Regions from separate parts of the Homo sapiens genome. Here region 1 is linked to region 2. Evidence: fine-mapped expression QTL. A gene starts in region 2. The other region holds a variant in brackets. All regions are shown on one strand. Distances are from middle to middle. Region 1 overlaps ING5 (inhibitor of growth family member 5). Region 2 holds the start of ING5 (inhibitor of growth family member 5).

Region 1 (12,193 bases), 23 kb before region 2:
GACCAGAAGAGTGCGAGCCTTCTGTTATGCCCAGACAGGGCCACCAGAGGGCTCCTTGGTCTAGCGGTGACGCCAGCGTCTGGGAAGACACCCGTTACCTAGCGGACCGTGGTCTAGCGGTAGCGAAAAGTGTCAAGAAACACCACCCGCTACTTAGCAGACCGGAAAAGGGAGTCTCCCTTTCCCCGGGGGAGTTTAGAGACGACTGTACTCCTCCACCTCTTGTGGAGGACCTGACATCAGTCAGGCTCGCCCGCAGTTATCCGGAGGCCTAACCGTCTCCCCGTGATGCTGTGCTTCAGTGGTCACGCTCCTAGTCCGCCTTCATGTTCCATCCTGTACACCTGGCTCTGCCTTCTAGATAGCAGTAGCAAAATTAGTGAAAGTACTAAAAGTCTCTAATAAGCAGAAATAATGGCGTAAGCTGTCTCTCTGTCTCCTCTCTCTCTCTGCCTCGGCTGCCAGGCAGGGAAGGGCCCCTGTCCAGTGGACACGTGACCCACATGACCTTACCTATCATTGGAGATGGCTCACTCTCCTTATCCTGACCCTTTGTCTTGTATCCAATAAATATCAGTGCAGCCTGGCATTCGGGGCCACTACCGGTCTCCGCAACTTAATGGTAGTGGTCCCCCAGGCCCAGCTGCCTTTTCTTTTATCTCTGTCTTGTGTCTTTATTTCTGTACTCTCTCGTCTCCGCACATGGGGAGAGACCCACCGACCCTGTGGGGCTGGTCCCTACACCAACCTGGCCAACATGGTGAAACCCTGTCTCTACCAACAATACAAAAATTAGCTGGGCATGGTGGTCGGTGCCTATAATCCCAGCTACTTGGGAGACTGAGGCAAGAGAATGGCTTGAACCTGGGAGGCAGAGGTTGCAGTAAGCTGAGATCACGCCACTGCACTCCAGCCTGGCGACAGAGTGAGATTCTGTCTCAAAAAAAAAAAAAAAAAACTGTCTCAGAAAATAATAACAACTGATTTTTCTTTTTCCCAGGGCATAGTCACCCTAGCAAAGCCCACATGTACCCTCAGAGAATGCTTGGAGGAAAATACGGCATGTGCTGGTTTCAGCGTTGTGGGGCCCTCACCCAGCATCTCAGCCTCCTCTTCCAGCGAGATGGCAGGTGCTGGTTTCCGCATTGTGAGGCCTTCCCCCAGCATCTCAGCCTCCTCTTCCAGCGAGATGGCAGGTGCTGGTTTCGGCGTTGTGGGGCCTTCCCCCAGCATCTCAGCCTCCTCTTCCAGCGAGGACTCCAGTCTACGGATTGGTTTTCACCTGGACGGTGGGTGAGAGGCCGACTGTACCTCGTGATGACCAAGCTCTTCCCGGGTTCTGTTAATGCACTCCTCAAGGCAACATCTTGAGACCCATCAGCTCCTGTTATGTTTGTGTCCCCCAGAATTCGTATGCAGAAGCTGTAACCCCCAATATGGCCGTATTTGGAGATGGAACTTCTGAAGAAGTAATTAAGGTTAAAGTCAGTCACAAGGGTGGGGTCCTGATCCGACAGGACAGGCATCCGTAAAATAAGAGACACCAGAGAGCTCCCTCTCCCAGTCAGTTTCGTAGGCACACATGAGAAGGCAGTGTTCACAACCCAAGGGAAGAGCCCTGGACAGGCACCAGACAACCCCAGCGCCTTAATCTTGGACTTCCAATCTCCAGAAATATAAGACATTTTTCTTAAGCCTCCCAGTCTGTGGTATTGTGATAACAGCCTGATATGGTTTGGATTTGTGTCCCCGCCCATAATCCCCAATGTTGGGGGAGGGGCCTGGTAGGAGGTGACTGGCTCATGGGCGCAGATTTCCCCTTGCTGTTCTTGTGGAGGTAAGTGAACTCTCAGGAGACCTGCTTGTTTAAAAGTGTGGCACCTTTCCCCTTTGCTCCCTTTCTCTCCTGGTCTGCCGTGGTAAAACGTGCTTGCTTCCCCTCCGCCTTCTGCCATGATGTAAGTTTCCTGAGGCCTCCGCACCACGCTTCCTGTACAGCCTGCAGAACTGTGAGTCAATTAAACCTCATTTCTTTATAAATTACACAGTCTCAGGTCGTTCTTTATAGCAATACAAGAATGGACTAATACAGAGCCTAAGCTGACTCCAGCAGCTTCCAAAAGGCAAGTGCAACACGGTAAGTCTTGCCCTTCCAGAGCAAGCACAGTACTCCTTTAGAAAGCAACTGCAGCGGCCGGGCGTGGTGGCTCACGCCTGTAATCCCAGCACTTTGGGAGGCCGAGGCAGGCGGATCACGAGGTCAGGAGATCGAGACCATCCTGGCTAACACGGTGAAACCCTGTCACTACTAAAAATACAAACAATTAGCCGGGCATGGTGGTGGGCGCCTGTAGTCCCAGCTACTCGGGACACAGGCAGGAGAATGGCGTGAACCTGGGAGGCGGAGCTTGCAGTGAGCAGAGATTGCACCACTGCACTCCAGCCTGGGCAACAGAGTGAGACTCCGTCTCAAACAAAAAAAAAAGAAAGCAACTGCAGCATTCTCACACGTCTTCCTTGGAAGTCAACTTGAGCCCCAGCACTGGCCACTGAGCTTCCTGAGCAACCACCCAAGGTAAGGCACAGGGTCCTCCCCAGACCCCCAGCCAGCAAGCTCCGCAAACCACTCTCCAATCACTGCATACCCCTTCAGAATTCAATTTCACACACCTGTCTCTGGGCACAACACTGACATTTTACACCTGTTTCCCAAAATGATGCTGAGTCTTGGGGGTGGTTCCCCCATACTTTTCTCGTGGTAGTGAATAAGTCTCACGAGATCTGATGGTTTTTTTAAGGGGAAACCCCTTTCACTTGGCTCTCATTTTCTATTGTCTGCTGCCATGTAAGATAAGCCTTTCGTCTCCCGCCATGATTGTGAGGCCTCCCCAGCCATGTGGAACTGAGGGTCCACCAGACCTCTTTTTCTGTCAGGTGCGGTGGCTCACGCCTGTAATCCCAACACTTTGGGAGGCTGAGGCAGGCAGATCACCTGAGGTCAGGAGTTCAAGACCAGCTTGGCCAACATGGCAAAACCCCATCTCTACTAAAAATACAAAAATTAGCAGGGCGTGGTGGCACGTGCCTGTAGTCCCAGCTACTCAGGAGGCTGAGGCAGGAGAATCACCTGAACCCGGGAGGCAGATGTTACAGTGAGCCGAAATCATGCAGTGCCATTGCACTCCAGCCTGGGTGACAGAGCAAGACTCCGTCTCAAAAAAAGAGAAAAGAAAATTTTTTTTAAAAAAAACCTCTTTTTCTTTACAAATTACCCAATCTCGGGTATGTCTTTATCAGCAGCGTGAAAACGGGCTAATACAGATGCACTTTCAATTGTTTGTTCCAAAAAATACTTTATTTATTAAACAATATATCCATAATCTATAACATGATCCAAAAATACTGATATACATCTTTACATTATCTAATAAAAAGATTTACAACATTATCTTTCCTTTACAAAGGGAACATAGATAATAATTCCTTGAAAATAAAAATGTAACATTCATGTTAAAGCTGCATCATCGTTTTGGATGAAACGTGGTTAAAGGTGGACACCACAAAATACATACAGAGGAAGAAAGAAACTCCAACACAATCTCTCCTGAATGGGAACATTTTCTTACACTTCCCCTGGCTTAAAATTCCTCTCAGCACAAGTATTGAAGGCCAATCACTGCTCACTAAAAATTTAAGAAAACCTTAAGTCTTCAATGCCCATAATTAACATCCCTCACGGTTTTACTCTAAACCATGAAGACCTAACCTAGGACAGGGCAGACCCTCGGCTCTGGGGTCATGTGGGAAGCTGCTCTGGGCCAGCGTCATTGCTCAAAGCAGCCCCAGCCAGGGCTCCCAACGACAGGACAGGAGGCCAAGTCCGGCAGGGCTGCTGGACACCAGACAAGCTGGCCGGTGTCCCCATCAGTCCCAGCAAACCCTCCCACCGCCACCAGTCTGCACAGCTGCTTCTCGCTGCTCCAGGCAGACTGGAAAACACCCACGCCACAAAGCCCTGGCCAACAGTGAGACGGGCGGTCAGCTGCTGCTCAGGCAGCCACGTAGGCCTCCGCACGGCGTCCCTGGCCAACAGTGGTCTCATGTCCACCCGCCCAGGGGTCCCGTCCAGCATGAGACGGGCGGTCAGCTGCTGCTCAGGAGGCCACGCAGGCCTCCGCTTGGCATCCATGTCCCCAGCAGCAGCACCTAGGGCACATTCGCAGATGCAGAGGGCTCGGTTTCACCAGCTCCTGTTTTCACTGCAGCCTGCCTTCCCCTACAGGATTTCCTCAGATCACTGACTGATACCGCAGCACTGAAAACAAGGAAAATGGGTAGAACGCTCCTTCCCATCGAGGTCAATCGCACAGCCACAGAGGACCCACACCTTCGGCTCAGATGAAGCTGCCACAGTGACCCACTGGTTCCAGCCCACACACCCTCAATCCAAGAGATGGGTCTGGGGCCGGGCAGCTGTGGAGGGGGGTCTGGTCCGAGACCAAATCCTTGAATCACCCCCAGGGAGAAGGCGGCCAGGCCTTCTGGAGCAAGGCGTGGATGGTGCAAATGGTGTGGCTTCTGTGTCCCTGCAGGGCGGGGGCCAGGCCAGGGGCCATGACCTTCTTTTCTGGCCAAACGGCCACTCCTGAGTGTGTCTCTCCCACGGGTAGACAGCGTCAGCCACAGAGCACTCAGGATTCAGTTGGGTCCAAACTACAGCCCAAGGAATTGTCTCATTCTGCTCATGTTTTCTATGTTTCTTCCAAAACTCTATGCATATTATTTTGGTGATATTATTGTAAGTGGCAAAAGTAAACATTAAAAACACTAAGCACAGAAACTTGAAAAGAAAAGGTCAAAATTCAATACCTGGGATGGTGCACAGTGGCAGGCAGGACCACATCATCACGTGTCAGACAAAAGCGTCCCACAGGGAAGCCAGTCATCTTTCCCCAAAAAGCAGCGAGACCTCAGGAAGCCGGGCAGCCAAAAGCATCAACAACCCCAGCGCTTTCCAGGGGTAGCCACAGGTGTGAACAGCTCAAAGGTGGAGCGCAATATCAAATTCATTTCTGAAAAATTGCCAGGCGCTGTTTCAGCACAAACTCCCTGCACTTACCTATCCCTCTTCCCAAAAATGGTAAAAGAGAGAAAAACATTTTCCACAATGTATCCTCCACGATCAATAAACATCTGTGTTGGCCGGGTGCGGTGGCTCATGCCTGTCATCCCAGCACTTTGGGAGGTCGAGGCGGGTGGATCACTTCAGGTCAGGAGTTCGAGACCAGCCTGGCCACACATGGTGAAACCCCATTTCTACTAAAAATACAAAAATTAGCTGGGCGTGGTGGTGGACGCCTATAATCCCAGCTGCTCGGGAGGCTAAGGCAAGAGAATCACTTGAACCCAGGAAGCAGAGGTTGCAGTGAGCCAAGATGGTGCCATTGCATTCCAGCCTGGGTGACAGAGCAAAACTCCGTTTCAAAAACACAAAACAAAAAACAAAACACACACACACACACACACACAAAACCTGTGCTAACAAAAAGTTAAGTCATTAAATGAAAATTCATCTCCCAGCTGAGCGCAGTGGCTGACACCTGTAATCCCAGCACTCTGGGAAGCCGACGCAGGCGGATCATTTGACCCCAGGAGTTTGAGACCAGTCTGGCCAATATGGTGAAACCCCGTCTCCAACAAAAATACAAACTTAGCTGGGTGGCCAGGCGCGGTGGCTCACGCCTGTAATCCCAGCACTCTGGGAAGCCGAGGCGGGCAAATCGTGAGGTCAGGAGATCGAGACCATCCTGGTTAACATGGTGAAACCCTGTCTCTACTAAAAATATAAAAAATTAGCCAGGCGTGGTGGCGGGCGCCTGTAGTCCCAGCTACTCGGGGGGGCTGAGGCAGGAGAATGGCGTGAACCCGGGAGGCGGAGCTTGCAGTGAGCCGAGATCACGCCACTGCTCTCCAGCCTGGGTGACAGAGCAAGACTCCGTCTCAAAAAAAAAAATTAACATACAAAACCCACCCATCTCCAGTTTCACAGCCGTGGCGAAGGGTGTGAAGCACTGTAGCCTGCCCTCTCTGGCGCTTTCCCTTCTAAGCCGCAGGAAGGCACCGCTTGGAGGGAGCCCCTTCAGGCCCAGACACTGGCAGGGACGAGCAGCAGCAGTGGCCGACCGCCCGCCTGCACCTGCCTGGCACCTGCGCCCGGAGGATCCACTCCCACCCACACCCTCGGAAAAGGACAGGTGGCCCAGAGGCATCCGTGTGTTCAAGAACCGCAGAACATGAATGTGGACACCATCCCAACCAGGACTGTTCAGGGTGTTCTTGTTCTCTTGTTCTCACTCACTGACTACCAGCTTCTCGACGGGAGGGCCCCGTCTGAGACACAGAGCTTCACACGTTCCTTCTGCTTTATTTCCTCTCCCTAGTGAAACATTAAACACAGGAGGAAAAGATACAGATGTAGCCATCAGAAGGAAGTGAGGCTGTCATTCCAAATGGCCCCCCACCATGAAGAAACCCAGGCTTCTTAAATCAGGAACCTCACGTCTCAGTTTTCCCTCAGGTTTCTTTCTGTGGTGTGAGGACAGAAACAGGCGTCCCTGCATTCCTCAGCAATCCTCTCCTTCCTCTAAAGGCACGGGAGAGGATTTCCGAGCGCCTGCGATGCTGTGGGGAACCGCAGGCTGGGCACCGTCACCAACGCGTCACAACAGAGCAAATCTGCATAGCCTTCCCCAACTACCACCGAAAGGATGGCTCCGGCTCAGCTTGGTGAACGCTCATTAAACAAAAAGCACACTCGAGTTTCCTAGCTTCATTCCAGAACTGCTATTGTGGCACAACAAATTCACAACAAATTCACATCGGAGTCCCCTCGACCGGGAGCTGCGGGCCTGGGAATGCACAGCACAGGCAGAAGCATTCGTGGTTCGTCAGCTCCTGGCAGACGGGACTCACTTCACGGACACACAGACCCACGATCTTCATGCTATTAGGGTAATTTCATCTTCACAGTAAAAAATCACCAATTCCCAGAGAAACGGAGCATCAGCCCAGCTGTCGCACAGGGTCTCGCGGGTGCTGGTCACGGGACCTGCGGCCACTCCAAGCTAATGAAGAGCCGTTTACTCCGGAGGTGAGTCCCCGAGGGAGGACTGAAGTCCAAGCTAAAAAGGCGGCGCCAGCGAAGCGGAGGCCGCTTCCTCCAGGGAAGAGCCCCCAGCCCTCCCGGGCCC[A/G]TCCGAGGCGCCCCACGCGGGAGCGCACGGTGGCCGGAGGCGGCGCGGAGCCGAGTGTGAGGAGGGCAGCCGCCGCCACGGCAGTGGCCCCACGCGCGCCTCGGTGGCAGGTGCTCCAGCGGGCGGGGCACGCGGAGCCCGGGCTGTACCGGACAGTCCTGGAAAACCACAGGAAAGCTACGCGAGGGTGGCGGCCGCCCTCCGTGGACCAGGTTACCATGTCCCCGCCCGCACGCCCGGCCGGGCAGCCCGAGCTCACGCGCGCCCGCCCACGTCCGCCGGGGTCCCTGCTGATGCTCGGGGGGAGTCCTGTAAAAGCCACACTGAGGTCGCGGCGGCGAGTCCCTGCAAGGTCGCCCTTCTGTGCGAACAGGCTTTGGTGGTTCTTGTTCTAGGAAACATCCAGCGCTTCAACTGGCCACGGAGTTACTAAGTATCAACCGAACAAGGTAGTTTTAAAAGGAAGGGAAATATTGCGACACGAATGAAGGGACAGATTAACTTGCTCCTCGGATCCGGGCACACAGCTCCTCCTACTTCTTCTTCCTCTTTTCCTGGACACACCGTGGACAGAACCTGTGACAAGAAAGGCGCAGTGAGGCCCTGGGCGCCATTTCCGCCAGCGCGCAGGGTGCCCAGGGCCCGCCTCCCCATGTCTCCCAGGGCTGCTGGACGCCGGCAGGAGGGCACCAGGAGAGGCACACGCAGTGGGGCCGCGGCCCTCCCGCAGGGAAAATGCGCCGATGCACGTGCGGCTCTATGCAGGACGCCGGTTCTGAAGCTGACAGATACACCATCAATGAGCAAAACCGATTTGACACCCAGGCGTTCCTCCTTAACAGGTGGGTCCTTCTTCCCCGGCCGATGGCAGGGTCGCTGGTGCCCTCTGTCTGCAGTCTGTGGGGGCTGCAGGTACCAAGCACGCGTTGAGAGCATGGCAGCCCCTCAGGCCCACGGAAACCCAGCCAGGCACCCTGCACTGGCCCTGGAAGCTGCCGTCTCACAAGTGCTCCCTGGTGACTCTGAGCAAGTTCTGGAGCTGCACGCACAAGGGGCTCCTGAACAGAGGCAGCTGCTGACCACAGAGGACATTCCATAGGTTCCCCACGCAGGAGGCAGCCGACTCGCATGACGGCAACCGTCAACCACCGCCTGGCCCAGGCCCAAGCCTGCCCAGGGCCCTCCGCCCTAACAGCCTCCGTACCCCTTCTCAAAACCCTCGGTGCACCATCCCCCAGCCGCACGGCGTGGGGCACCACAGTGCCATGTGTCCCTGTGACAGGACAGCCTGTGTTGACGCCACATGACACCGTGAGCTCGGCCAGCCTCCGAGACACGGCATCCTTTCCCTGTGTCCTCACACCGAACACCAAGGATAACTGGCTCTTACCAACTCGGGCGAGTCTGCCGGAGTTTCAAACACGCTGCCACGATGACCTCTGAGTGCCACACAGAAGAGCACATTCCGATTTCATTTTCAGAACATAGATATCCATTTTTAGATTTTCAGCACAGGCAAACAAAGCCAGGTTTTTATCTTTTTATTTATTTATTTGAGACAGGGTCTTGCTCTCTCGCCCAGGCTGGAGTGCAGTGGCGCGATCTCAGCTCACTGAAGCCTCGGACTTCCAGGCTCAAGCCATCCTCCCGCCTCCGCCTCCCAGGTAGTTGGGACCACAGGCACGCACCACCACGCCCAGCTAATTTTTGTATTTTTTGTAGAGTTGGGGTCTCCCGATGTTGCCCAGACTACAGGTTTTTATTTAAATGAAATCTGAGGAACAACAATGCAGAAAGTTGCCATTGCCAAGGGGATGCAAGGGTCAGGTAGAGAAAACACACCCTTCTCCACTAGACAGAGCCAGGGGCAGAGCCCCAGATCCATGCCCCGGCTTCAGGGCTCACATCTCATGCTATATTTCCCAAATTTCCCTAGGGGACAAGAACCTCTCATTTCTGATTTAAGACGATCCCTACCTCCCAGAGTCCGGAAGGTTGTCCTTCAGGAGGGGCCATTAACGTGAATATCACGTAACCTGGTAACCACCATTCCTGGGTGACGGCATCCCTCTGCCAGCTCGGACAGGCACAGCAGCAAAGGGGGGATAAAGCCACACCCAGAGCAGCCACCAGCCAGCCACACTCCTTGAGGCCACAGTGGGGCATGCCTACGTGGCTACCGTGTCCCGCTAAGCCCGGCAAGATTCTGCCATGGAGCACCTTCTCCTGGGGAGGCCAGCAGCGCAACACCCAGCAGACTGGGAGAAAACAGAGCGAGCGTCCCCACACTCACCATTTTCCTTTGGGTTTCGTGGTAAGGTCCACGCAGGCAAAGTGAAACCACTCAATTGGACACTGCAAAGTAAAGGGAGAAACCGCAGTCAACACGCCTCATGTTCTGTATGCAAAACACAAGAAATGCCAACATCCGCCAGCCCTGCCCCACACAAGACCCCGCCCCATGGCGCGAATCCTGCAGGCGACACTCACGTCTGGATTGTCACAGCCAATCATCTCCCCATAGGAGACCTGGTGGCACAGGCAGTACGTGGGTTCGTTTGGGTCCACGGGCATGTCCAGCACATCAGAGGGGTGCACGGACAGGATGGTGTCAGTGAACTCAGACCTGCAGGGGACAGGGCACAGGCACCACTGAAGGCCATGGTGGGAAGTGAGGCGGCACGGACACCACGGGCCCTTCTGTCTCTGACTTAAGGCCCCCTCACCCCAAAACTGTGAAGACAATCATTCCAAGGGGGAAATTGGTACCGTGCTCTGAGCGACACATAATGAATAAGCTTGCTTCCATTTTTCCCATTGTCCTTTAGAAATGAATGCGACTCCAGGGCCAGCCACTGCAGTCATGCACTAACTGAATACACACCTTGTGGACGTTTTCTTCCTGGAGCACACATTTTCAAAACCTCAATAACCCCTCTGAACACGCAATGTTCTAAGAAGGCGCAGCAAGAAAATCATTAAGTATACGAACAGATTGTCAGCTGATGCTAGAAAGAACAGTTACCCACAAAAATCCAGGAACAGCAGCAGCTGGCAGCAGAGGGGTGGAGACCTCGCGCCCACCTTCGGGCCCAGGCAGGGGCATGGGGGCACAGAGGGCCCCCAGGAGGCCGTGAAGCGCAGCACTCACCCACAGCACCGGGGTTCTGGTCCCACTCTGGGGACGAGTCCACTCTCATCTCGGTCCCTCCTCCCAGACAGGACTCCCCCGGGGACCTCTGGACTCAACCCACTTCTGGGCCATCCCTCCAAAGACCCCGGCCCCTTTGGAAACAAGCACACGTCACCTCTGCCAGCAGACGGCTGACACCTGAGAGAAGCCTGCCAGCCTCCCACTCCAGACTGACAGGTGTCAGAGCAGCCCGCACAGTCAACAGCTCTCCCGTAACTGTGACCTCCTCCCAAGAGAACAGCCATGCGTCCTGCGCCCGGGCCCTCCACGCACCTACTCAGGCACCTCTGCCCCAATACTGACTCAACCAGCAGCTCCCCACACACTCCCTGGACCGCCCACCACCCACCCAGCTGTCCACCTGGCACAGGGCCCCTTCCGACCACACACCATCCTTGTCACTCCTTCATCCCCATCAGCTCCCACGTGGGTTTCTACACAGCAGCCTGGCAGGTGTTCCACCCCGTCTATGCCTCCCTCCAAGCCTGCCACCTGTAGCACCATGGCCGTCCCACCAGGACCACAGACCTCAGGTGGAGACTTTCCTGTTTGAAAGGGATGCACTTAGGGGGAAATTTACGCTTTTATATTTCAGTATTTTTCAAATAAACTTACAAGCTGCAGGTACTATAGACAGTGTATTCCCATTAGTACAGAAAGAAAAAGTATCTTCCCTATCCCACCCTCCAACCCACGAATATCTAGTTGGTATGTAAACACAGCAGGTTAGCAGGAGGAACGTGGCCGTGAGAAAAACAGTCACGATCAGGGAAAGCCAAGGAGCAGAAGTCTGGGTCCCAGAGGGAATCAACACTCAGCTTTTCCTTGGATACCTGTCTAAAGCTTTTCTACGCCTTTGCAATTGCCTGTACACATACACACACACTCGGGCTCAGCATGCACCCGGCCTCCCCGCTGCCCTCTGGCACAGGGGCGCCCACCTAAGTCTGTCCTTTGCAGGTAATCTGCTCTTCTGCTCTTTCTCTCTGTCTGGGAATAGACAGGGGTTTCTCTTTAGAGCTGAAATCCATCAGCGTCACAAGTCCAGGTCCAGGTGCTGCCGACACTGCTTTCAAGCAACAGTCTCAAGTAGTCTTCGGGTCTCTCCTCTGACAGCAGCACGCAAGGGTCTACGTCTCAGCCTCCTGCCGATTCCGGGATGCCACCTGTGGCTTCACCTCCAAGGGGCTCCTGCGGTCTCCTCGAGTCACCTCTCACCCGCGGAGAGCAGGGCAGCACCCTCTGCTGCCAACCGTCCCCGAAACGCTGACGCCCTCCTCTTCTGCGCCGAGTCCAATTCTGTCCACAAAGCCCGACCTGACATCTTGAGCTGCCACTTGACCTGTGTCTCAGCATCACCAGGTTCGAGGGCGCTGGCCAGATTTGATGGCTGTGGGAGAGGGCCGGGGGCCTGAGGGGACCGCCCAGCAAGGGCACCCCAGAAGCTGAGGCCACCGTGCAGGCCTCACTGGCCTCTCAGTCTCGCCTGAGGGAGCGCCATGGCGTGTGGCCAGGGAGTGCTGCTATCAGCCCTGAGGGAGGCAACCAGGAGGCCATGGGGAGCCCTGTCCCTTGCACAGGCCAGGGTGACCCCAACTGTCAGCGGCTGCTGACTCCCTTCAGCACCACTGCCACAAGAGGCACCCTCTGTGCTAACTCCCCAGGGTGTGGCAGGCACCCCTCGCCAGACGGTGCCAGCGAGCCCTTCCGCGCCCGGCCCCGATGGCTTCCCAGCACTCCACGTGGCTCC
Region 2 (11,946 bases):
GTAGAGGTCAGAGGAAGAGCCATGGCCCCCGCCCCGCCCTCACCATCTCGTAGGTCTGCATGGCCAGCTGCACTTTGTCGTCACTGTATTCCTTGCACTTGCTGTAGGCGTTCTGGATCTTCTGCAGGCGCTCCACGCGCTGGTCTGGAGACAGCGTCTTCACCGTGGAGATGTACTCTGCAGCCAGGATGTCAATCTCTGCTTTCTTATCTGATGGAGAAATGGGGGAAAAGCTAGCCCTGCACAAGACACCATGATGTGCTCACCAGACTGGCAACAACTAAAGTCAGCCAACGCCAAGTTGTGGCAAAGATGTAGGCTGACATGAACTCACGCTGTGCTGGTGGGAGCGCAAGTGGGCAGAACCGTTCTGCACAAACAGTCTGGGATCGTGTGAATGTGCAGACTTTACGGCAACGTGCCCAGGACAGTCCCAGCTCTGAATGTTACACAGCAAGTGGTCACAGTGCCTTCTTCGACTCTCAAACATCCTGTATGAATAACTTGTAGCCACCTTTCCTATGACCTGGCATACTACTCTTTTTTCCCTTTTCTTTTTTTCCGGTAGAGCAGTCAAGAAAGAACACACTACTCTTAAATACCCTAAACAAACCTTATGTCACCTAAAGAAATCCACACGGGAAACATTCATAAGAGCAGAAAACAGAAAACAACCCCAATGTCCAATCCTCAGTAAAATGGAGAAATAAGCTGTGGTCCCTTCAGACAACAGAGTGCTACTCAGCAACAAAAAGAGCAAACTACAGCCACACACAGCAACACGGATGATTCCCAGAGAAGGTGACACGGAGCAAAAAGAGCAAGAAACAAAAGAAAACATACTGGATGATTCCATTAATATGAAGAGCAGAAACAGACACAACTCTTAACCCTTCAGTTTAGAGGGGTAAGAAAACTAGGCCAGGCGTGGTGGCTCACGCCTGTAATCCCAGCACTTTTGGAGGCCGAGGCGGGCAGATCACGAGGTCAGGAGATCGAGACCATCCTGGCTAACTTGATGAAACCCCGTCTCTACTAAAAATACAAAAAATTAGCCGGGCGTGGTGGCGGGTGCCTATAGTCCCAGCTACTCGGGAGGCTGAGGCAGGAGAATGGCGTGAACCCAGGAGGCGGGGCTTGAAGAAAGCCAAGATAGCGCCACTGCAGTCCGGCCTGGGCGAAAGAGTGAGACTCCATCTCAAAAAAAAAAAACAAAAGAAAACTGTTGAAGGCCATGCACGGCGGCTCACGCCTGTGATCCCAGCACTTTGGGAGGCCAAGGCAGGAGGATCACGAGGTTAAGAGATGGAAACCATCCTGGCCAATGTGGTGAAACCCCGTCTCTTCTAAAAATACAACAATTAGCTGGGCATGGTGTTACGTGCCTATGGTCCCAGCTACTCAGGAGGCTGAGGCAGGAGAATCACTTGCACCCAGGAGGCAGAGGTTGCAGTGAGCCGAGACCGTGCCACTGCACTCCAGCCTGATGGTAAAGCGAGACTCCGTCTCAGAAAAAAAAAAGAAAACTACTGTTAAAGGTGGAAGGTGACTGTCACCAAACTCAGGATGGTCACCCCTTGGTTGGGGAGGGGTGTCATGACTAGGAGGGTCACAAAGGCCTTCAGGTGCCAAAGGGCTTGATTTCTCCATCTCGGTAGCAGACAACAGAGAGGTTCACCTGGTAATATTTGTTAAGCAATCTATAATTGTTGCACATTCATTTCCTGAATATATGTTACATTTCACAATAAAATAACTCTCTGTATTCCCTAGTCAAGATGCTGTACCTAAGGAAAAAAACACAGCTATCTCAGTCTTGCAAAACATGTGCCCAGGCCGGGTGTGGTACTCACGTCTGTAATCCCAGCACTTTGGGAGGCCAAGGCGGGTGGATGAACCTGAGGTCAGGAGTTCAAGACCAGCCTGACCAACATGGAGAAACCCCGTCTCTACTTAAAATACAAAAAATTAGCAGGGTGTGGTGGCGCATGCCTGTAATCCCAGCTACTCGGGAGGCTGAGGCAGGAGAATTGCTTGAACCCGGGAGGCGGAGGTTGCGGTGAGCTGAGATCGTGCCATTGCACTCCAGCCTGGACAACAAGAGCGAAACTCCATCTCAAAACAAAAAAAACAAACCTGTGCCCAGCATAATGAATAAAAAATCTCAGGCCAGGCACAGTGGCTCACACCTGTAATACCAGCACTTTGGGAGGCCAAGGCGGGCAGATCACCTGAGGTTGAGAGTTTGAGACCAACCTGATCAACATGGAGAAACCCCATCTCTATTAAAAATACAAAATTAGCTGGGCATGATGGTGCATGCCTGTAATCCCAGCTACTCGGGAGGCTGAGGCAGGAGAATCACTTGAACCTGGGAGGCAGAGGTTGTGTTGAGCCAAGATCGCGCCATCGCACGCCAGCCTGGGCAACAAGAGTGAAACTCCATCTCAAAAAAAAAAAAAAAAAAAATTGCCACACCAAAACACATTATCATGAAATTTAAAACTTCAGAGATAAAGGAAACATCTCAAAAGCTTCTGAATAGGAATAACAAAAAAAAAATAGATCACACATATAAAGGACCAAGAATCCAAACGGCACCAGATTTTCTGCAGCAACGTGGAAGCTAGGAGACAAGGCAGCAATGTCGCCAACTTCCTGAGTGAAAACAATTGTCAACCTAGGATTCTATACCCAACCAAACTATCAGCTGAGTATGAGGCTAGAACAAACACATTTTCAGACATGCAATGTTACAAGAAAATCTACCTTCCTTTTTTTCTTTTTTTTTTTTTTTTTTGAGATGGAGTTTCGCTCTTGTTGCCCAGGGTGGAGTGCAATGGTGCGATCTCCAGGTGCAACCTCCGCCTCCAGGTTCAAGTGATTCTCCTGCCTCAGCCTCCCAATTAGCTGGGATTATAGGCGTGCGCCACCACACCCGGCTAATTTTGTATTTTTAGTAGAGACGGGGTTTCTCCATGTCGATCAGGCTGGTCTCGAACTCCTGACCTCAGGTGATCTGCCCACCTCAGCCTCCCAAAGTGCTGGGATTACAGGCATGAGCCACCGTGCCTGGCCAAGAAAATCTACCTTCCTATGTGCCTTTTTTTCAGGAACCTACCAAAGGAAAGGCTCTATCAAAACAGGAGAGCAAGGGCAAAAAGAAGACATTTAAGATTCAGGGAAGAGGGTCCCACACTGAAGAGGGGTGAAAGGAGATCCCAGGAAAACCTCAGGGCAACAAGTGTGCAGTTGGCATGGAAACAATCAGGACTGTGGCCTCCAGGACAGAGGGCTCTGCGGAAAGAAAGCACACACAGAACTGTCAGGGTAGACAGCCTGACAGACCACAAGGAAAAGCCCAGCTGGGGAGACAAGGGTCGAATGCAGAAAACAAAGCCAACAAACAGGGCCATGAGTAACTCTAAGAAATACACAAAGTTATTCCAAAGAGGTCATATAAGCACAGCAGGTGGCATGGCTCAGTGTTAAAGTACCTACACAGCTGCCCAATGGAAGTCCCATCACTGGTCTCACCACAAATTCTAACAACCTACAGCCAGGAGATGGGGGAGCCAGGTGAGGGCATGTGAGGGTGTGGGGGCCACTGGAGAAGTACAGCTGCCTGTGCCATATACGTCTGAACAACGTCTAAAACTGACGAGAGATAAAATAAGAAACAGCAACAAAAACATGTTGTTTAGAAACAGGGAGTTTAAGGGCCGGGCGCGGTGGCTCATGCCTGTAATCCCAGCACTTTGGGAGGCCTAGGCAGGCGGATCATGAGGTCAGTAGATCAAGACCATCCTGGCTAACATGGTGAACATGGTGAAACCCTGTCTCTACTAAAAATACAAAAAATTAGCTGGGTGTGGTGGCATGTGACTGTAGTCCCAGCTACTCGGGAGGCTGAGGCAGGAGAATCACTTGAACCCGGGAGGTGGAGGTTGCAGTGAGCCAAGATCGTGCCACTGCACTCTAGCCTGGGCAACAGAGTGAGACTCTGTCTCAAAAAAAAAAAAAAAAAAAAAGAAAAAAACAGAGTTAGGGCCAGGCGAGGTGGCTCACGCTTGTAATCCCAGCACTTTGGGAGGCTGAGGCGGGCAGATCATGAGGTGAGGAGATCAAGACCATCCTGGCTAACACGGTGAAACCCCGTCTCTACTAAAAATACAAAAAAAAAATTAGCCAGGCGTGGTGGCGGGCACCTGTAGTCCCAGCTACTCAGGAGGCTGAGGCAAGAGAATGGTGTGAACCCAGGAGGCAGAGCTTGCAGTGAGCTGAGATCACGTCACTGCACTCCGGACTGGGCGACAAAGCAAGACTCCGTCTCAAAAAAAAAGAAACGGAGTTAAATATCAAACGGCCAAAAAGTACTACCAAACTTTTAAAACAATGCACGCACTACACACTTTGAAAATTGAAAATATTTAAAAGAAAAAATTGGCAATAAATATTTTGATTGGAAAGGGTGATGGTTATAAAAACATGATATAAAGATGTGTAAGAACCCAAGAAACAATGTGGCTTCAAAAGTATCAACACCTACTGCAAGACACTGAGTGATACCCACGGCCCAGGGCTAGGCCAATGCCCCACTAACCTGGGTCCCCTCAAAACCCTCTGCCCCCAGCCTTCAGGAGCTGCTGGCTCCCACCTGTCAGAACTCAGTTCTGGTTGTATGGAGAGGTCTGAACCCACCTTCCGTCCTCTGGTCCAGCTCTCGCATCAGCTGGAAGTTCCTCTGAAGTTCGCAGGGAAGGTTCTCGATACCTGAAACGCAAAAACACAGAAGCCATGTACCTCTCAGCAGCAAGACAAAAATTCACCTCCAAAGGTTTTCTGTCTTTTTTTTTTGAGATGGAGTTTCACTCTTGTTGCCCAGGCTGGAGTGCAGTGGTGCGATCTTGGCTCACTGCAACCTACACCTCCCAGGTTCAAGTGATTCTCACGCCTCCGCCTCCTGAGTAGCTGGGATTACAGGCACATGCCACCATGCCCGGCTAGTTTTTGTATTTTTAGTTGAGACGGGGTTTCACAAGGTTGGCCAGGCTTGTCTCGAACTCCTGACCTCAGGTGATCCGCCCACCTCGGCCTCTCAAAGTGCTGGGATTACAGGTGTGAGCCACCAGGACTGGCCAAAAGTTTTATACTTCAAGTCTACAAGCCCACTCTGTATTCTGTCTCTGTCAGGGTTTGCGGAGCGGAAGGACTGTGATCTCATTTTTAGATGCAGGTACCAAACAGTGCTGACAAGAGGCTGTGTGCACACTTCGGAAGCTGTCAGAAGTCAAAGAAGGGAGAGGGAAACTTGGAAACCAACAGCACAGGCAGGGGAGGCCAACTGACCCCACCCTCTAGGCTGCCCCCCCTCAGTGAGCAGCATCTTCCAAGGCTCAAGCCAAAATCCCCTGGGTCCTCCTTGATCTTCCCCTACTTTACCCAGAAATCCAGTGCATTGAGCAGTGTAGCCACGCTGCCCACGCGACTTTATGCAAGGATAGAAATGTTTCCTCTCTCGGATGGGCGTGGTGGCTCATACCTGTAATCCCAGCACTTTGGGAGATCAAGACAGGCAAATCAGTTGAGGTCAGGAGTTCAAGACCAGCCTGGCCAACATGGTGAAACCCTGTCTCTACTAAAAATACAAAAATTATCCAGGCGTGGTGGTGCACAGCTACAGTCCCAGCTACTCGAGAGGCTAGGGCATGAGAATTGCTTGAACCTGGGAGGTGGAGGTTGCAGTGTGCTGAGATCATACCCTCCAACCTGGGCAACAGGGTGAGACTCCATTTCAAAAAAAATCAAAAAAAGAAAAAGAAAAGAAATGTTCTCTCTGAGCTGCCCAAGACAGTGGTGGCCATAGGGAGCTACTGAGCACTGGAAATGGGACTAACGCCATTCAATTTTTAATTTTACTTAAATAGTCCCTGTGGCTAGCGCAACCATTCCCCACAGTCTGCCAGGAGGACCCCCGTGCTGCTTTCGCGTCTGCTTTGTTACCCCCTAGACCAGGCCAACCTCCGCCCCCTGCACAGCTGACACAGGCTCCTAAGGGGGGCTGCCTCCTCCAGTCTTGGCCACCCTCCCATCTGCTGTTCACAGTTACCAGGCAATCATTTTAAACCTAACTCTATCTTATGCATCTGATGCTTCCAGCCCCAGTGTTTTCCCAGCTCCCCTAGAGGACAGAGGCACAGCCTCCCGGCTGGCACAGCCTCCCAGACACACACAAAGTCAACCCTCCTTGGGAGGCCAGCCCACTGGCTGGGCACCAGGATAGAGAAGGCCTCCCCTCCAGCGTGCTCCCCAGCTTGACTCTTCTACCCAGGGAACCCCCCACTACTCAGACCCCCAAGAGACAGCGGAGCACATGGGCAGAATCGGGCGTCCCTCTAGGGCAGCGGTCTCCAGCTCCAGGCCACGGCTCACTCGCCACTGTCTCAGCCCCTGGGCGGGTGCCAGGCCGAAGACCATGAGGATCCCCAGTGCAGCGCCCCCACAAGGGCCCTCCAGAGCCACCCGGCACAACCCCAAACACCGCGACCCCAAAGCTGTGCCCATCCCGGGCCGACGTCAGGGGTCCCGCGTGGGGTCTGCCCCTCTACGAGCGGGAGACCCTGAGCAGGCTGCTCGGCAGCGCTGGACCTTCCCTGGTGTGTAAAGTGAGGGAAAGCACCGTCCGCTCAGCCGCTGGGGGCGCCGACCTGCTGCCACCTGGAAACAGCACAGCCCGCCCACCAGGGCCGACTCGGCACCGCCCTCCCCGCCTCCGCGCCGCAGTCCCCAGTGCCGGGGAGAGACGCCCCGCGGCCCGCACGCCCTCCCCAGCCGCGGTCACACAAGAGGCCGGCGCACACGGGCGCACAGCCAGGCGGAGGCCCAGACCCCGGAGCCCCCAAGGCCCGGAGCCCCGCAGCGGGCGCCAGCTCCTCCTGCAGACGGGACAGGGACGGGCGGGACCTGGCGGGGCCGGGGCCGGAGCTGGGGGCGGAGATGAGGCGGGGCCTGGGTAGGGGCGGGACCTAATATGTGGGCGGGGTCGAGGCCGCAAGCCCCGCCCAGCATCGCCAGGCCCCGCCCCGCCGTGACGCACCTGGAATTGGCGCGACCCAGCCGGCGGGACCCCCCGCGCCCGCCCCCCGCGCCCTCCCCTCCCTTGCGGCCCTGCCCCGCCCCGTCCGCGCGCCCCCCGTCGCGCCCGGCCGCGCCCGCCGCCCTCCCGAGCCCACGGGGTCTGCATGCGGTGCCCGGCGCGCGGGGGGCTGCGGCACGGAGGACTCCGCGTGGGCGGCGGGCGCGGGGCCCGTGGGGCGCGCTTACTGTCCAGATAGTGCTCCAAGTACATGGCGGTCGCCATCTTCGTCCGCGGCCGCGCTCGGGGTCTGCGCGGGCGGGCGGTGCCGCGGGAGGCGGGGGCGGGGCGGTGCCAGCGCGCTCACTATTCATGAGTCGCGCGCGCTGATTGGTCGCGCCCGGGGGCGGGGTCGGACACGCCTTTCAGCTTCCGGCGGGCGGCGGGCTGCGGGGCCCGGGCGGAGGTTGTGGCAGCGGCGTCGGGCAGCGAGCAGGACCCAGGGCCGCAGCGGATCGGAGGCCGAGGAGGAGCAGGGGTTCCCGGCCCCACCGCCCGGCGTGCGGCCCAGGGCACCCAGGTGGGCGTCTCCCCTCCGCACCTGTCAGCGACCCCTGGGCCACCAAACGCAAACACGTGGTCCCGGGGACCTCACGCCCGTCCTGACGGCGCCCACGCGACCCCTGCTCCCGGCCGGGTCCCGGACAGGCCGCCACGAGGCCCTCCCTTCCCGAAGGCTCCTTGGGACCTGTCTGGCTCAGCGCCTTTCCCCCGGACCCCGAGCCCCCGGGGCCTCAGCCCGGCCTGAGCCGAGGGCCGGCACCGCGTGGCCCGGGCGAGCTGCCCCTCCCTCAGGGCCTGGGCCCTGGCGCCCTTCCCCCGCCAACGCCGCCCCTTCCCTCCGAGGAAAGCGGCCGCCCCGCCCAGCACCAGTGAGGGCACTGGCTCCTTTGCTGCCACCTCTCGAGGCAGGCAGGACCCGCACCATCTGGATGCCTTGGCCGAAAAGGCACGTGCGGCAGTATGATATAGTTAATAAGATGGCGTGCAAAGGTGTGCCGTAAGATGCATGCAAAAATACTGGAGAAGGCCGGCGCGCTGGCGCACGCCTGTAATCCCATCACTTTGGGAGGCCGAGGCGGGCGGATCACTTGAGGGCAGGAATTTGAGACCAGCCTGGCCAACGTGTTGAAACCCCGACTCTACTAAAAATACAAAAAAAAAAAAAAATTAGCCAAGCGTGGTGGCGCACGCCTGTAGTCCCAGCTACTCCGGAGGCTGAGCCCGGGAGGCGGAGGTTGTAGTGAGCTGAGATCGCGTCTGCACTCCAGCCTGGGCGACAGAGCAAGACTCTGTCTTCAAAAAAAAAAAAGAAAATTTTAAGAAAAAAAAAATACTGGAGAAACATAATTAAAATATGTTTCAGACTCGGCACGGTGGCTCACGCCTGTAATCCCAACACTTTGGGAGGCCGAGGCGGGCGGATCACTTGAGGGCAGGAATTTGAGACCAGCCTGGCCAACGTGGCGAAATCATGTCTCTACTAAAAATACAAAAATTACCCGGGCGTGGTGGCGGGCGCCTGTACTCCCAGCTACTCGGAGACTGAGGCAGGAAAATTACTTGAACTTGGGAGAGGGAGGTTGCAGTGAGAAGAGATCATGTAACTGCACTGCAGCTTGGGTGACAAGAGCAAGACTCCGTCTCAAAATAATAATAATACAAAAACTAGCCGGGCATGGTGGCAAGTACCTGTAATCCCAGATACTCGGGAGGCTGAAACAGGAGAATCGCTTGAGCTTGGGAGGCGGAGGTTGCAGTGAGCCGAGATTGCACCACTGCACTCCAGCCTGGCCAGCAGAGCAAGATTCCATCTCAAAAATAAAATAAAATAGGGCAGGCGCGGTGGCTCACTCCTGTAATTCCAGCACTTTGGGAGGCCAAGGCGGGAGGATCACGAGGTCAGGAGATTGAGACCATCCTGCCTAACACGGTGAAACCCCATCTCTACTAAAACTACAAAAAAATTAGCTGGGCATGGTGGCGGGCGCCTGTAATCCCAGCTACTCGGGCGGCCGAGGCAGGAGAATGGCGTGAACCCGGGAGGCTGAGCTTGCGGTGAGCCGAGATCGTGCCATTGCACTCCAGCCTGGGCGACAGAGCAACACTCCGTCCCAAAAAAAAAAAAAAAAAAAAAAAACTTAGCCGGGCATAATGGCTGGTGCCTGTAATCCCAGCTACCCAGGAGGCTGAGGAAGGAGAATCACTTGAACCTGGTACGTGGAGGTTGCAGTGAGCCGAGATCGTGCCACTGCACTCCAGCCTGGGTGACAGAGCGAGACTCCATCTTAAAATATAAAATAAAATAATTTAAAGTGTTTAAATATTAGTCTTTGGGGTGATTCTTCTCTGCCTCCAAACTGTGTAGCATCATCATGCAGTGCTCACCAGTACCCATGTCACTCCTCTTCCCACTTCACCACTGGACGCCCCCAAGCTGGGGATCAAACTCATCTCTGGCAGGTCTTTCATGGGTGAGGTGTGTCACTTCCCAGTCCTGTCTCCACTCCCTGTGATCTCAAGAGGACGTCCCAAAGGCTCCCCGAGCCCCAAGAACTGATGACCACTAGATGTAACGTGTAGGCCCCAGAACCCCCCGCCCCACCCCCAGCCACATCCTTGACTTCCGAGATGCAACGTTGCTGGTCACACAAATTAGCATAAGCTGATCAAAGGAGCAGTACTTTCATTATTTAAAATGCATTTTTAAAGATATTAAGCCAGCTGCTGTGACTCAAATCCGTATGATCACCATGAGAGGCTGAGGCGGGAGGATGGCTTGAGCCCAGGAGGTCTAGGCTGCAGTGAGCCATGATCAAACCACTGTACTCTTGCCTGGGTGACGGAGACCCCCACCTAAAAAAACAAGCTATGTCCCCCTTGGTGGACTCTTCCCTAAACCCCAGTCAAATATTGAAAACCAGAAACAATGTTTTTGCCACTATTATGTTCATTATAAAAATTCAGGCCAGGCATGGTGGCTCACGCCTGTAATCCCAGCACTTTGGAAGGATGAGGTGGGTGGATCACCTGAGGTCAGGAGTTTGAGACCAGCCTGACCAACATGGAGAAACCCAGTCTCTACTAAAAATACAAAATTAGCCAGGCGTGGTGGGCATGGGCCTGCAATCTCAGCTGCTCGGGAGCCTGAGGCAGGAGAATCATTTGAACCTAGGAGGCAGAGGATGCAGTCAGCTGAGGTCATGCCATTGCACTCCAGCCTGGGCTACAAGAGCAAACCCCTCCCCCCCCAAAAAAAAATTCAGCTGGGGTGGTGGCTCACGCCTGTAATCCCAGCACTTTGGGAGGCCAAGGTGGGTGGATCACCTGAGGTCGGGAGTTCGAGACCAGCCTGACCAATACAGAGAAACCCCATCTCTATTAAAAATACAAAAGTAGCTGGTTGTGGTGGTAGCTGCCTGTAATCCCAGCTACTTGGGAAGGTGAGGCAGGAGAATCACTTGAACCCAGGAGGCAGAGGCTGCGGTGAGCCAAAATCATGCCATTGCATTCCAGCCTGGGCAACAAGAGCAAGACTCTGTCTCAAAAACAAAAAAATTAAACAATACAGGAACTTTTAGCTTCCCACCTCCCCAGGGGGCAGGACTGTGATTGCCTTGTTCAGCTTTCAGTCCTAATGTTAGCAGTTTGAGTGCATCCTTACTGGCCTCATTTAATTATAGACTATTTTTCCATCAGTTTTAGGTTTATTGAAAAGTTGAAGAGAAAGTAGACTTCTCATATACTCCTCCACACACACACACACACACACACACACACACACACACACACACTCCTCTATTATAAACATTTTGCATTAATGTGATACATTTGTTACAATCGATGAAACAATATTGATACTTTTTTTTTTTTTGAGACCTCAAATTAGCTGGGCTCGGCTCACTGCAAGCTCCACCTCCCGGATCCACGCCATTCTCCCGCCTCAGCCTCCTGAGTAGCTGGAACTACAGGTGCCCGCCACCATGCCCGGCTAATTTTTTGTATTTTCAGTAGAGACGGGGGTTTCACCGTGTTAGCCAGGATGGTCTTGATCACCTGACCTCATGATCCTCCTGCCTTGGCCTCCCAAAGTGCTGGGATTACAGGCGTGAGCCACCACGGCGGGCCCGATACATTATTATTAACCAAAGTCCATCATTATTTCCATAAGGGTTCATTCTGCCTTGTGCTTTTTTTTTTTTTTTTTTGAGATGGAGCCTGGCTTCTTCGCCCAGGATGGAGTGCAATGGTGCAATCTTGGCTTACTACAACCTCCGCCTTCTGGGTTCCAGCCATTCTCCTGCCTCAGCCTCCCAAGTAGCTGGGATTACAGGCAGGCACCACCACGCCTGGCTAAGTTTTGTATTTTAAGCAGAGATGGGGTTTCACCCTGTTGGCCAGGCTGGTTTCAAACTCCTAAACTTAGGTGATCCACTGGCATCAGCCTTCCAAAGTGTTGGGATTACGGGCGTGAGCCACCACGCCCAGTGCCTTGTGCATTCTTATAGGTTTTGACAAATGTATAATGTCAGCTACCCCCCATTACATGTCATACAGCATAGTTTTGTGGCCCTAAAAATCCCCTGCGCTTCCCGATTCATCCCTCTCCCCCTCCCGAGGCCCCTGGCAACCACTGATCATTTTACTGTTTCCAGTTTGCTTTTTCCAGAATGTCATGTAATTGGAATCATACAGTATGAGCCTTTTCAGAATGGCTTCTTTCACTCAGCAATATGCATTTAAGGTCCCAGCGTGCCTTTCCGTGGCTTAATAGCTAGTTCATGTTTAATTTGAAAAATATTCCAACGTCC

What was found. PIP is the estimated chance that this variant, and not a neighbour inherited with it, causes the effect.
Region 1: its variant is fine-mapped to the expression of ING5 in thyroid (GTEx, PIP 0.92).

What each region holds. Positions count from the first base shown.
Region 1 is chr2:241,720,622-241,732,814 of GRCh38, reverse strand. ING5 (inhibitor of growth family member 5) reads right to left here. Exons shown (of 8, transcript NM_032329.6): 6 at 9,741-9,876; 7 at 9,544-9,605; 8 at 3,337-7,826. The coding sequence ends at 7,784. Among named protein-coding and RNA genes, the nearest start is that of D2HGDH, 7.9 kb to the left of the region's middle. The variant A/G (reference allele first, on the strand shown) is at 7,251.
Region 2 is chr2:241,697,480-241,709,425 of GRCh38, reverse strand. It overlaps ING5 (inhibitor of growth family member 5), which reads right to left and starts at 7,387. Exons shown (of 8, transcript NM_032329.6): 1 at 7,324-7,387; 2 at 4,702-4,773; 3 at 44-210. The coding sequence starts at 7,360. RefSeq lists enhancers at 6,269-6,898, 7,137-7,969 and silencers at 6,624-7,183, 7,368-7,531, 7,274-8,093.